Regions from separate parts of the Homo sapiens genome. Here region 2 is linked to region 1. The links come from fine-mapping of genetic effects on gene expression. A gene starts in region 1. The other region holds a variant in brackets. All regions are shown on one strand. Distances are between the middles of the regions.

The links. PIP is the estimated chance that this variant, and not a neighbour inherited with it, causes the effect.
Region 2: its variant is fine-mapped to the expression of SPNS2 in cerebral cortex (GTEx, PIP above 0.99).

What each region holds. Positions count from the first base shown.
Region 1 is chr17:4,496,115-4,501,472 of GRCh38, forward strand. SPNS2 (SPNS lysolipid transporter 2, sphingosine-1-phosphate) reads left to right here and starts at 2,767. Exons shown (of 13, transcript NM_001124758.3): 1 at 2,767-3,303. The coding sequence starts at 2,934. It overlaps SPNS2-AS1 (SPNS2 antisense RNA 1), which reads right to left and starts at 2,621. Exons shown (of 3, transcript XR_001752763.2): 1 at 2,037-2,621; 2 at 1,428-1,601. RefSeq lists silencers at 2,560-2,619, 2,630-2,779, 2,840-2,889 and enhancers at 2,931-3,566, 3,567-4,201.
Region 2 is chr17:4,533,818-4,539,175 of GRCh38, forward strand. SPNS2 (SPNS lysolipid transporter 2, sphingosine-1-phosphate) reads left to right here. Exons shown (of 13, transcript NM_001124758.3): 9 at 1-36; 10 at 2,259-2,357; 11 at 2,446-2,609; 12 at 3,083-3,129; 13 at 3,636-5,218. The coding sequence ends at 3,125. It overlaps MYBBP1A (MYB binding protein 1a), which reads right to left. Exons shown (of 26, transcript NM_014520.4): 26 at 5,087-5,358. Among named protein-coding and RNA genes, the nearest start is that of MYBBP1A, 19 kb to the right of the region's middle. The variant T/TGG (reference allele first, on the strand shown) is at 2,615.

The DNA.
Region 1 (5,358 bases):
TCACTCTGTCACCGAGGCTGGAGTGCAGTGGCATGATCTTGGCTCACTGCAACCTCTGCCTCCCAAGTTCAAGCAATTCTCCTGCCTCAGCCTCCTAAGTAGCTGGGATTACAGGCGCGCCCCACCACGCCTGGCTAATTTTTGTATTTTTAGTAGAGACCGGGTTTCACCATGTTGGCCAGGCTGGTCTCGAACTCCTGACCTCAGGTGATCCACCCACCTCGGCCTCCCAAAGTGCTGGCATTACAGGTATGAGCCACCACGCCGGCCCCCATTTGTTTTGAAGCTGTGATCTAGACCTAATGAATGAATATCAGAAGGTCCTTTAGCCACGGAGTTCAGCCTCCTGTTATACTGATGAAGAAACAGAATCCCGCCCAGTCTGAGGGCAGCGTGCAGTGGAGGAAGTGCTGGATTAGAGGGTAAACACACCTGGGTTTAGTCCATGCACTGTCATTTACCAGGTGTTCGACCTTGGGCAAATTACTTCTTTTCCCTGGGCCTCAGTTTCTTCATTGGCGAGATGGAGGAAAGAACCCTACCAGTCCTCTGTCTGACAGCCCCAGGTTACTGCCAGAGCTTCTCAGAAGGCTGTAGGGATTTGTCCTGGGCTGCACAACCAGAAAGGGCTTCTTGTCCTCCCTGTCCCTCTGCCCTTGGTGGCCCCTTATCCCACACAAGGACTTATTCTAGAGGCTGCCTTTGAGTTGAAACCCCAGTGAAACACAGTGGGAAGGGCTGGCTTGCTTGGTGGCAGCTCAGAGGTCCCCCAGGTTTGAAAGGCTCATGCCACCCTCTTCCCCTGCTCTGGGACCTTCCCAGTGGTGAAAAGGGAAGGCAGCAGAAAGAGAATGCTCCCCTTTCTGTCAAGGCCGAAAGTGTCCACCTGGACAGGACTGTGGCCAAAGGGATGAGGAGTTTTGGGGCACGGGAAGGGGACCCTGGGCTTGGGTCTAGAGTTGTGGTTGTGCCTCCTTCACCACTAGACACAGTTCCACAGCTGGGCAGCCTCCCACAGCTGGACTCTGTCCACCTGCTGGCACCATCACACACTTACGAGATCATTGCTGGGGCCGGGTTCTAGCCCCACGGAGCTCCTAGCTCTCTGTCCTTGTTTGTTAATCACCCGTCATGCCAGGCCACCATGGGGAACTCCCCCCATCCGCCTTTGCAGGCCTGAGCTCAGCGAGCTGGAAAGAGGCAGCAGGCAACTTTGAGAATGAAATCTGTTTTCCTAACCCTCCCGTCACAGTCATTCATACCCAGCACGCTGAAGCATATTTTTAGTCACTTTGCAGAATTTAAAATACACCTCGAAGGCGCCAAGAAACACCAGCTTGGGGATTAACTCTGCTCACAAGAGACAGTGGAGGGGGGCGGGGGGGGTGCCTCGTGCTGTGTCACCCGTTGGCTATGCCATGACTCACTGTGGCCGAAAGCTTCACCAGATGCACCTGCCTGTGGACGTGGGGTCCGGAAAAGCCTCTAGCGGGGAGTGAGCTCCAGCCCTCGGGGATGATGCCAGAGCCTGGGGCAGCTCCAGCCCTGCCACAGCTTCACTGCCTGTTCGTAATGGGTCACGTCCGTGCCCTGGGACTTGTCTGTGAAACACAGGGAATGATTAACTGGTTTCCGAGGGTTTGTCCAGTTCTAACATTCTGTCCTCTGCACTTTATACAGGATTTTAATTTCGATTTTAATTCCCCAAACAGGTGAATGGGGGAGGGAAGGGGGAGATCGTCACAGAGCCACAGCACCTCTAAGGAGGGGTGAAACCGTGATGGGATGTCAGGAACACAGAAGCACCCCAACCACTCTCCATAGGAGGCAGACCCCCGCCCCGTCCCACCAAGGGGAGGTGACCACCCGTGGATTTCCAGACTGAATCCCATCCTGCCATCTGCCCCCAGATACAGAAATGGAGGCCCAGAGAGTGGGTGTCATGTTCAGGATCATGCCACACACCAGGGCAGAGCTGAGCTAGGACCCAGCCTCCTGTCTGCCACTGGGGGCTTTGTACCCTCTCTAGCACATACCTGGAAGTCTGAAGCTTGGAGATGTGGTCCCTCAGGAGGGAAAGCCCCTTCTGAATATCCTGTTTCTGTTGGGCCCCAATCACAGCCCTTGCTCTCCCCGCCAGGGGCTGCGGGCCACTCTGTGGGGCAAGGGTAGGGTCCGGGTGCCCACACAGGAATGGGCCCGGGGTAGGTTGGGGGCTGGATCTGGGTTGCCCTGGGGAGGTGGGAGACACAGCCCACCATGACTGGTGGAGGTCTAGGTTCTGGGCCCTCCCTGAACTGGTTAAATCCGGGCGTGTGAGTATCGGAGGAGCCACCGGCTCTCCAACTGGCGCCCCTGACTTTAGCCATCTGAGACTCCTCTCTCCAGTTCTCCCAGATACGCTAGGCTCAAGCCCTCAGCCCGGCTCCCAGAGCCTCCGCCGGGAGTCCACGCCCGAGGCAGGGGTTGGGTGAAGGGTACTGAGTAGGTGCTGGGAGCCCCGTCACCAGCACCCTGCTCCCAGCTCCGTAGCCAGAGCAAACCCTCTCCCGCTCCCCGCGGGCGTTCGCGGCCGGTCGGCCCCGGCGTGACTGCGCCCCCATTGGCAGGAGGGGCTCTGCCGCCCGGGCCCCCAGTCCCCGGGCCCCCCACCCCCAGGGCAGCACGTGCGGGGCGGGGCTGTGGCCCGAGCCCGGAGCTGATTGGGCGCGGGCCTGGTGGGCGGGGCCGGGCCGCAGCTGTCAGAGCCGCGGCGGCGAACGAGGCGCAGCGAGCTGAGCGGTGGCAGCGCCGCAGCCGGGGCCGGAGCGCAGGAGCCGACGGGGCCCGACCAGGATGGTGCAGTGGCGGCTCCGCGGCGCACGCACGCGCTGAGCGGGCCCAGCCTGGGCCCCGCGCCCCCCGCGCCCCCCGCCGCCCCGATCCGGGCCGGCATGATGTGCCTGGAATGCGCCTCGGCGGCGGCGGGCGGCGCGGAGGAGGAGGAGGCGGACGCGGAGCGGCGGCGCCGGCGCCGGGGGGCGCAGCGAGGGGCTGGCGGTAGCGGTTGCTGCGGGGCGCGGGGCGCGGGCGGCGCTGGAGTCTCGGCCGCGGGCGATGAGGTGCAGACGCTGTCGGGCAGCGTAAGGCGGGCCCCGACCGGACCCCCCGGCACCCCCGGCACCCCCGGCTGCGCAGCTACTGCAAAGGGCCCCGGCGCTCAGCAGCCCAAACCGGCCAGCTTGGGCCGCGGGCGGGGGGCAGCCGCCGCCATCCTCAGCTTGGGCAACGTGCTCAACTACCTGGACAGGTACACCGTGGCAGGTGAGCGAGTGCCCCACCCAGCCCGAGGACCAAGACCCCACCCCATCCCACCACCCGCCTCGAGGGAGGTACCCCAGAGAGCTTTTGGTCTCAGGCCTGCTATCTCCAGGCCCTACGTGAGGTCCCTACGGACCCTCTGCTCAGGCACAACTGGGCAAGGGATGCCTCCGTGCACCACGGGTACAATCCAGCTCCCCGCTCATACACACCCGGGGCCAAGGGATAGAGGAGTCCCCACCCCTGGAGCAGCCCGCGCGTCCTCTCCAGCCCTTGACGGCCCATCCGTTGTCCTCCTCTCCAAGAGTCTCCTCTGCGTCTCTCTGTCTCCTTGTCTCTGCGCCCCCTCCGACCCCAGCTGCCGGTTCCCGGGCCTCCTTCCCTTCCCTTCCCCCAGCCCAGGTCGTCTGTCCGTCCATGGCCCGTCAGTTCCTTCCTTTCTCCGCCGCCTCCACCCCCCTGCGTGCGTGCGGCGAGTGCGCGCGCCCCTTGCGGGTGTGCGCTAGGGAGACCGGGTGTGTGTGCGCGTGGCGGCGCGGTTGTGTGTGAGCGCGTGGCTGACAAAGGCTCCGGGCTGCGGGGAGCGGAGGGAGGGGCGGGGCGGGTCCGCGGCGCCTGGGGACCCAGGCTGCGGTTTGCAGCTGGCCCTGTACAGAGGCCTGGAGACGCCTCCCCCTGCTCTATGGTGCTTGGGGTGTAGGGTAGGGCGCAGGCCTCTGGAGCTAGAGACGTGGAGCCTCATCCTCAGGGAGCATCTCTGGGAATCAGCCTTGGGGACGGGATTGGGATCGATAGAACAACTGGGTTCTAGCCCCAGCTTTGCTCCTAATGTGCTTGGTGTGTGACCTTGGGCCAGTCTCAGCGTGTGTTTAGGTCTGTTTGCCCGTTTGTGAGTTGATTGATCATTGGGCCTTTGGGGGACGCACGTGGTTCTGGAATTGCCTTCTGCTGGCTCCCTTCCCCAGCAATTAGGGGTGGGTCTAGGGGTAAGAATTTGCCCTAGACTGAGCTGCTACTGGTTGGGAATGGTGGAGCTTTGAGAGGGAAGGACTTTGGCCAGACTGGCATAGGAAGGGGCTCCCTGCAGGAGGAGAGCAGTACTGTGTGCCTGGCATGCTGGCCCAGAACCTGCGTAACTATAGCTTAGTAAAATCTGGAGCTATCAAACACACACACAACAGAGAGAGAGAGGAGATAGGAGAGAGGGAAGGATTTATTTTTGGACAGACTCTAAAGAGAACTTTGCGGCAATTGAGGGAAGAGAGCCCGGGCATAAACCACATGCCACCTGGTGCCTTCTCTGGGCCTCAGTCTCCCCGTCTGTTGAATGGAGTTTTGTGTCAAATGGAAGGGAAGAATTCTGATGGGAGGGCAGAGGCTTCCCCCTCCCCCCATTCCTGCTTTCAACCCCCCTTGGCTCTCTGTCCTTCCGCTGGAGGAAATTGGAAGTGGGTACCAGTGGCATCAGTTTCTGGGTCGAGCTATCCCAAAGAGAAACTTACTTTGGTCTAGAGAGCAGGAATATTGAGCACCTCCCAAAAACGCCAGCCGCTGTCACGCATGCACCATGCTGCCGGGGACCTGGGAGCATAAGCGCCATCCTTTGGGGGAGAAATCAGAGAATACCTGGGACCTGTAGTCAGTTCACAAAAGGCTTCTGTACACAGATAGGGGGACCAATGTCCCTGTACAGCCCCCGTTCAAGATGGCCAGGAAAGTGACTGGCAAAGCTGGTGTTAGCTCTAACAGTAAGGCTCTGCCTGGGAGGAGGTCTTCCCACCCTTTCTCAGCTGAAGAAGGAATGGTACTACTTCTGGCACTGTAGCGCTCTCCAACTTGTTTTTTTTCTGGCCCCAGACCACCCCCTTTGACGTTCTTAGGGGAACTGCCTCTGCCAGGGGCAGAGCCAGAGAGGGTGGGATCAGGGAGGGCTGGCACTTATCTGCTCCCACTTCTACTCAGGTCTCTGAGTCAGATTGTCAGCATGGGGGAATGAGATAGGAAATTTGTGGTGAATTGGTAAAGGGAGGTGGGGAGTGGTGGCTAAGAGGGGCGTGG
Region 2 (5,358 bases), 38 kb after region 1:
TTTTCTAACTGGGCCATCACTGCAGACATCCTCATGGTGAGCCAGGCAGGCCGAGGTCACCTTGTGCTGCTGACCCAGGCCTCTTGACCTCACAGGGGTGCCTGGGGAGGGCGGGTGAAGGGGCGGGAGAGCTGGTAGGAAGGCAGGCCTGCCAGGAACGTGAACCCAGAGGCAGGGAGGGGATCAGAGAGTTTGGGGTCTGCCTCTGGCCAGGGCTGGAAAACAGGGTTGGGCAGGCAGACAGAGCACCATGTGGAGACTGAGGGGGAGGGGGCATCTCGAGGCTCAGGTTAGTGGCTGGGAGGCTGGCGGTGCCAGGCTGGCACTGAGGTGGCGCTGCCTGCCCGCCCTCCTCCCCCCGCTGGGTCTGAGCATCCATAGGCTCTGCCCTCTCTACTCAGCCTGGCTCCCAGGCGTGCCTGCGGCTGGGGCTGGGCGGACAGAGGCTGTCTTCACAGGGCCAACAATGGGCTCTAGCCCAGCCAGCTGGGGACAAAGGGCTGTCTTGAGCGGCCAGCAGGGGCTTGTGTCCCTGGGTGGGGATGGGAGCACCCTGGGAGGAGCCAGGAGTGGAGCTAGGAGTTCATGGCCCTCTGGGCGTGGCAGGGGTGAGTGTGACACTTGGTCCTGTGCCCAAGGGTCAGCCTGGCCAGGGTCAGGAGGGGACAGGAGAGAGTGTCTGGGAGGTGTCAGGGCAGGCTCTGGGGCAGAGAGGAAGGACTCGGGTGGATTCTCAGGGTGCCCGGGTTTGGGTGCCCCAGCATGGGACAGCCCGGGAGATGAGTGTGCCAGGCACTGCGGCCCCTGCACTTCGGGAAGCCTGCCTTACCCCACCCTGAGCCTCCGGGCGTATCCGCTTCCCCCTGGGGTGGCTCTGTGTCCTCCCGAGTCCATGGGCTGCGGTGGTGGTGGGGAGGCCTGGCGCAGTTCAGAGCCTCAGCACGGAGCCAGGCGGTGGCAGGGGTGCGCCAGGGTCACTGCACAGGCCCAGAGTGAAGGGAGGAGTCCGTGCAGATTAAGTGCTCTTGGTGCTGGGCAGGACCCCCTCTCCTGCCTCCACCCCCAGGGAGCGCCTGACAGCTGCCGGCAGGGTCAGGGTCCCGGGGAAATCGCGTCCCGGTTTATTAAGTGTAACAGTTTATTCCTGCTGGAAACAGGGCCACTCGTTTCATCAGATTCAGGCCCTTTTCCACCCGCCCCCCACCTCTCCCGCAACGGGGTGCCCCGTGGGTGCTGGTTGCTTGCACACAATGCCCACTAAGGCTGGCACTCCAAAGAGGCGAGGCAGCTGGAGCTCGGGGAACAGGGGCTGCCTGGGCACCCACAGAGCTGGCTGTGCCTGTCCCGCCCCCACCCCAGCCCCTCCTGTCTGACTCTGGCCTGCCCAGCTTTGAAGCCAACCTCCTGTAGGTTGGGGCCTGCTTGGTCTGATGGGGGTCTGGGGCCCAGCAGTGCCGGCATTTGGTGCTGAGGGTGCCCGCGGGTGCGAGCGGAGGCTCTTGCAGGCAGGGGCCTGCCTCACCAGCTCCTGTCCCAGGCCAGTCGAGGCCTGGCTTGGTCCTCAGGGAGGGGAACCAAGATGGGTCTTTAGCTTGATGGGAGGTGAGGACAAATGGCTGTGGCGGGGGTTCAGGTTCCCTCGGGAACATGTGCCTCTCTAGACCTCAGTGTCCCCGTGACCCAGGTCCAAGGGCAGAAGCCAAGGCACCCTGGTCTCAGGAATGGAGCAGGAGCCGCGCTGGAGAGGCAGCAGCATGGCCGTTCCTGATGGCTCGGGTACTCCGAGGCTCGGAGGGCTCTGGGCTAATGGCCTCTAGTGACTGGCGCCTGGGCAACCCCCAAAGTATCATTCCTTAACTGCATGTAGCTGGGAGGGAGGTGAAGATTCCAATTTCAGAGGGGTGTGCTGGGGGCACAGCAGGTTTGAGGCCAATGACGCTTTCAGTATGGGGCAGGTCGCAGTGGTCTGGGTTGGAGGTGTGGAAGCCCCTGGGGTGAGGGTGACTGCAGCTGTGTGTGGGTGGGAGGGGCTCAGGGAGGAGAAGGGTGACTGGCAGGAGAGAAGCAGCCAGGCTGGTGGGGTGGGCAGTAGAGGGGACTGTGGGGAGGAGGGCAGGGCCCAGGGGAGAGAGGTGTCAAGACGTAGGGCAGGAGTGAGTCTGAGGGTGTGGGGGCTTCAGAAGTGCCACGGCCCGGGGCCAGGGCCAAGCGCGTGAGCCTTTCTCCTCTGGCCGCTGACCTGCCCGCCTGTTCCGCAGTACGTGGTCATCCCCACGCGGCGCGCCACTGCCGTGGCCTTGCAGAGCTTCACCTCCCACCTGCTGGGGGACGCCGGGAGCCCCTACCTCATTGGCTTTGTGAGTAGCCCCGGGGTGGGGCTGGCCAGGGCAGGCTGGGGGACTGCAGGAGGGCTCTGCCCTGACATCCACCCCCAAATCCTCGCAGATCTCAGACCTGATCCGCCAGAGCACTAAGGACTCCCCGCTCTGGGAGTTCCTGAGCCTGGGCTACGCGCTCATGCTCTGCCCTTTCGTCGTGGTCCTGGGCGGCATGTTCTTCCTCGCCACTGCGCTCTTCTTCGTCAGCGACCGCGCCAGGGCTGAGCAGCAGTGAG[T/TGG]GGGGGGGAGGGGAGGCCCTGCTGCACCGCCGGGAAGCAGGGACCGTGATAGCCACCGTGAGCCCTGCCCTGGGGTGGGGCGGGGAGGGTACAGACCTCCCATGCACTCAGTGCACCCACTGGTTGCTGGGGTCCAGCCCTGAGGCCCAGTGCCAGGGTCAGCCTGGAGCTGTGGGAGGCCACGGGGGTGTCTGGTGGATCCAGACTTGGGTTTGTCTCTGGACTTAGTGGTTTTCAAAGCTGGGGCCCCTCCCCTTCCTCTTACTTTCTGACTTCTTTCTCCTTTCCTCTTTACTCCTCTCTCTCTCCTCTCCCCACCCCTGGGCTCTCCCATCTCCCCCTGGGGCTGACGAGGTCCCTGCCCAGCACCTCCGGTCAGCTGGCCCCCACGACACGATGTGCCAGAGCAGTGCCCGGGCCCGGCCCCCGCTGATGCACCACCCTGACCCCCGCCCGTCTCTCCCCCAGGGTGAACCAGCTGGCGATGCCGCCCGCATCTGTGAAAGTCTGAGGTGGTGAGTGCAGGCCGGGAGGCACGTGGGGGCTCCCTAAGGAAAGGGGAAGGCCAGGGTTAGGCAACAGGGAGCACTTTTCCTCCAGAGTCACCTCCTACCCCAGCACATCCCACCAACTCTGGGCTTTGTCTCTGAAGATGTTGCCAGAATTTACTGATGGAGCCATGGGTGGGACAGCAGGCTGCTCCTTCCAGTAAATTAGCTCCCCTTTCCTTCCTTTCAAGGGCTGGGTGGGGCCTCGCATAGATCAGGGCCAGGACTGGCCAGGAACTCCTCACTCTGTCCGGACTTCTGTTCTCCCAAATCCTCCTGGATGTACCAGGGCCTGACTCCTTGGCCCTTCCCTCTGGGAGTTATAGCTTCCCAGCAGCACGAGACCCAGGGTCACAGCTGCAGGTCCAGGAGAAGGCTTGCGTCTCCAAACAGCAAGAAAAGGGAAGGAGGGAGGGCAGCCTTGGCACAGGCCCCACTAAGCCCCACTGCTGACCTGACACCCCTTTCCCCAGGTGCCATTGGGACAATGAAGAACCCACACTCCCACCTCGTCTGGGAGGTGTCCTACAGCGTCCGGGACCGGCTGGGCTGCCCCAAAGCTTTCTGTGTGATCCACGGCTAGGCACCCACCCTCTCTGGCCCAGGCCTGCTGAGTGGCCCTGGCATCAAGAAGAGGCTGTGTCCTCAGTTACCCTGGAAGGATGTGTGTGTTGGAGCCACACGGTTGGACAGGTTCCCAGCCCTAGGTTTGGGCCGCAGGGCCCCTGGGGCCAAGGAAGAAGACAGCCCCAAGTGGGTGTCCGGGGAGAGCCTGGCCTGCCACCAGCTTATGTGATCTTGGGCAAGTCCCTGCCCTCCCTGGAACGAAGGGCCAGGGGGCTGGACTTTCCCACACAACTTGCTGGGCAAAGCACGATCTGCAGCTTTGAAGACTCAACAGACCCTGGACCATACGGAGAGCAGGTGGCCCAGGCCTCAGGGCGGCAGTCCCGGCTTTGAGGCTCACGCGAGGGCCTGGTATGCAGGGACCACTGCTCAGCTGGGCCTCGGACCTTGGGGATATTGGACGCAACCTGGCAAATGAAGCTGGGCGCCCAAGTCTCTGGGTACTCCCTGGAGGACACTGTCTCACTGTCTCGGGTTGGCTCCCAGCCTGGAGGTCCCAGATGGGGACTGTTCTGACAAGCTGGCATCACCAGGGGTGAAGGCCCTGGCTGCAGCTGTACACCACCTGTGCCCCCAGGCTCAAGGTCTCTGGCAGGTGCACACCAGCCCAACTCTGCAGGGCTTCTCTCCCTGCCACCACCCCCCAAGCCAGGACCCCACTCCTTCCCCGAGGCTGAGCTGAGCCTTTTCCAGGGGCAGGGCCCAGGAGACCATTCCCAGAATCCATGGGGCAGTAGCCAGGGCTCCGGCTGCTGGAGGAAGCAGCTATCCACAAAGCTTCCTGCCCCAGAGCTGAGGCTGAGGCCCCGGGAGAGGCGGCCCCTACCCAAACACTGGCTGCTGGCATTCCACCAAGTGACCCCAGGGGGGGGCCAGGCCTTCGATCACCCACCTCCCATCCATGCACACACCAGGATGCAGCTGCCAACTTCACACCAGCCCCAACCCGCTTTGGGGGAGCTTAGCCCCCTGCGTCACCCACTCCCTGCACTTCTGCTGCAATCAAGGTGGTTCTGGTGCGGGGGTGGGGTGGGGGGTGAGGCCTTGTGGCCAATGGGGGACCCCCCAAGAGCCAGCTTGGACAATGCTCTTCTTGCCCCTTAGTTACTGGCTGGCTGTGGCTTCAGTGGTGTGTAAGCAGGTGGAATACTCACCCACCAAGCTCTGGGGTACCCCGAGGGCCTGACAAGAGGATGGGGTGGGGGTGGCATCCTCCAAAGACCAGCCTCCACCCCCACTCCAGCCTCAGCGGGGCCCCAGCGATGTTTTCTTGTTGTACAAGAACCAGGTCCGAGTGTTGCCTCCTCTTCCTTCCGGAAGCCAAACTGCTCCTTTATTTTTTAGAGCTGCTGATTGTGAATCTCAGAGTCTTAAGAGAGAAGCCAAATATATTCCTCTTGTAAATGAAGAAATAAACCTATTTAAATCACCCCCTGGTGGCTCCCTCACAGCAAAAAAGCCTGGGGGCAAAGAGGTGGCAGGCACGAGAGATGGTCACACCTGCCTGCAGCCAGCACATCAACCTGCACCAACCCAGGCAAACACCAGAGCCCTGGACATGGCCCTGGA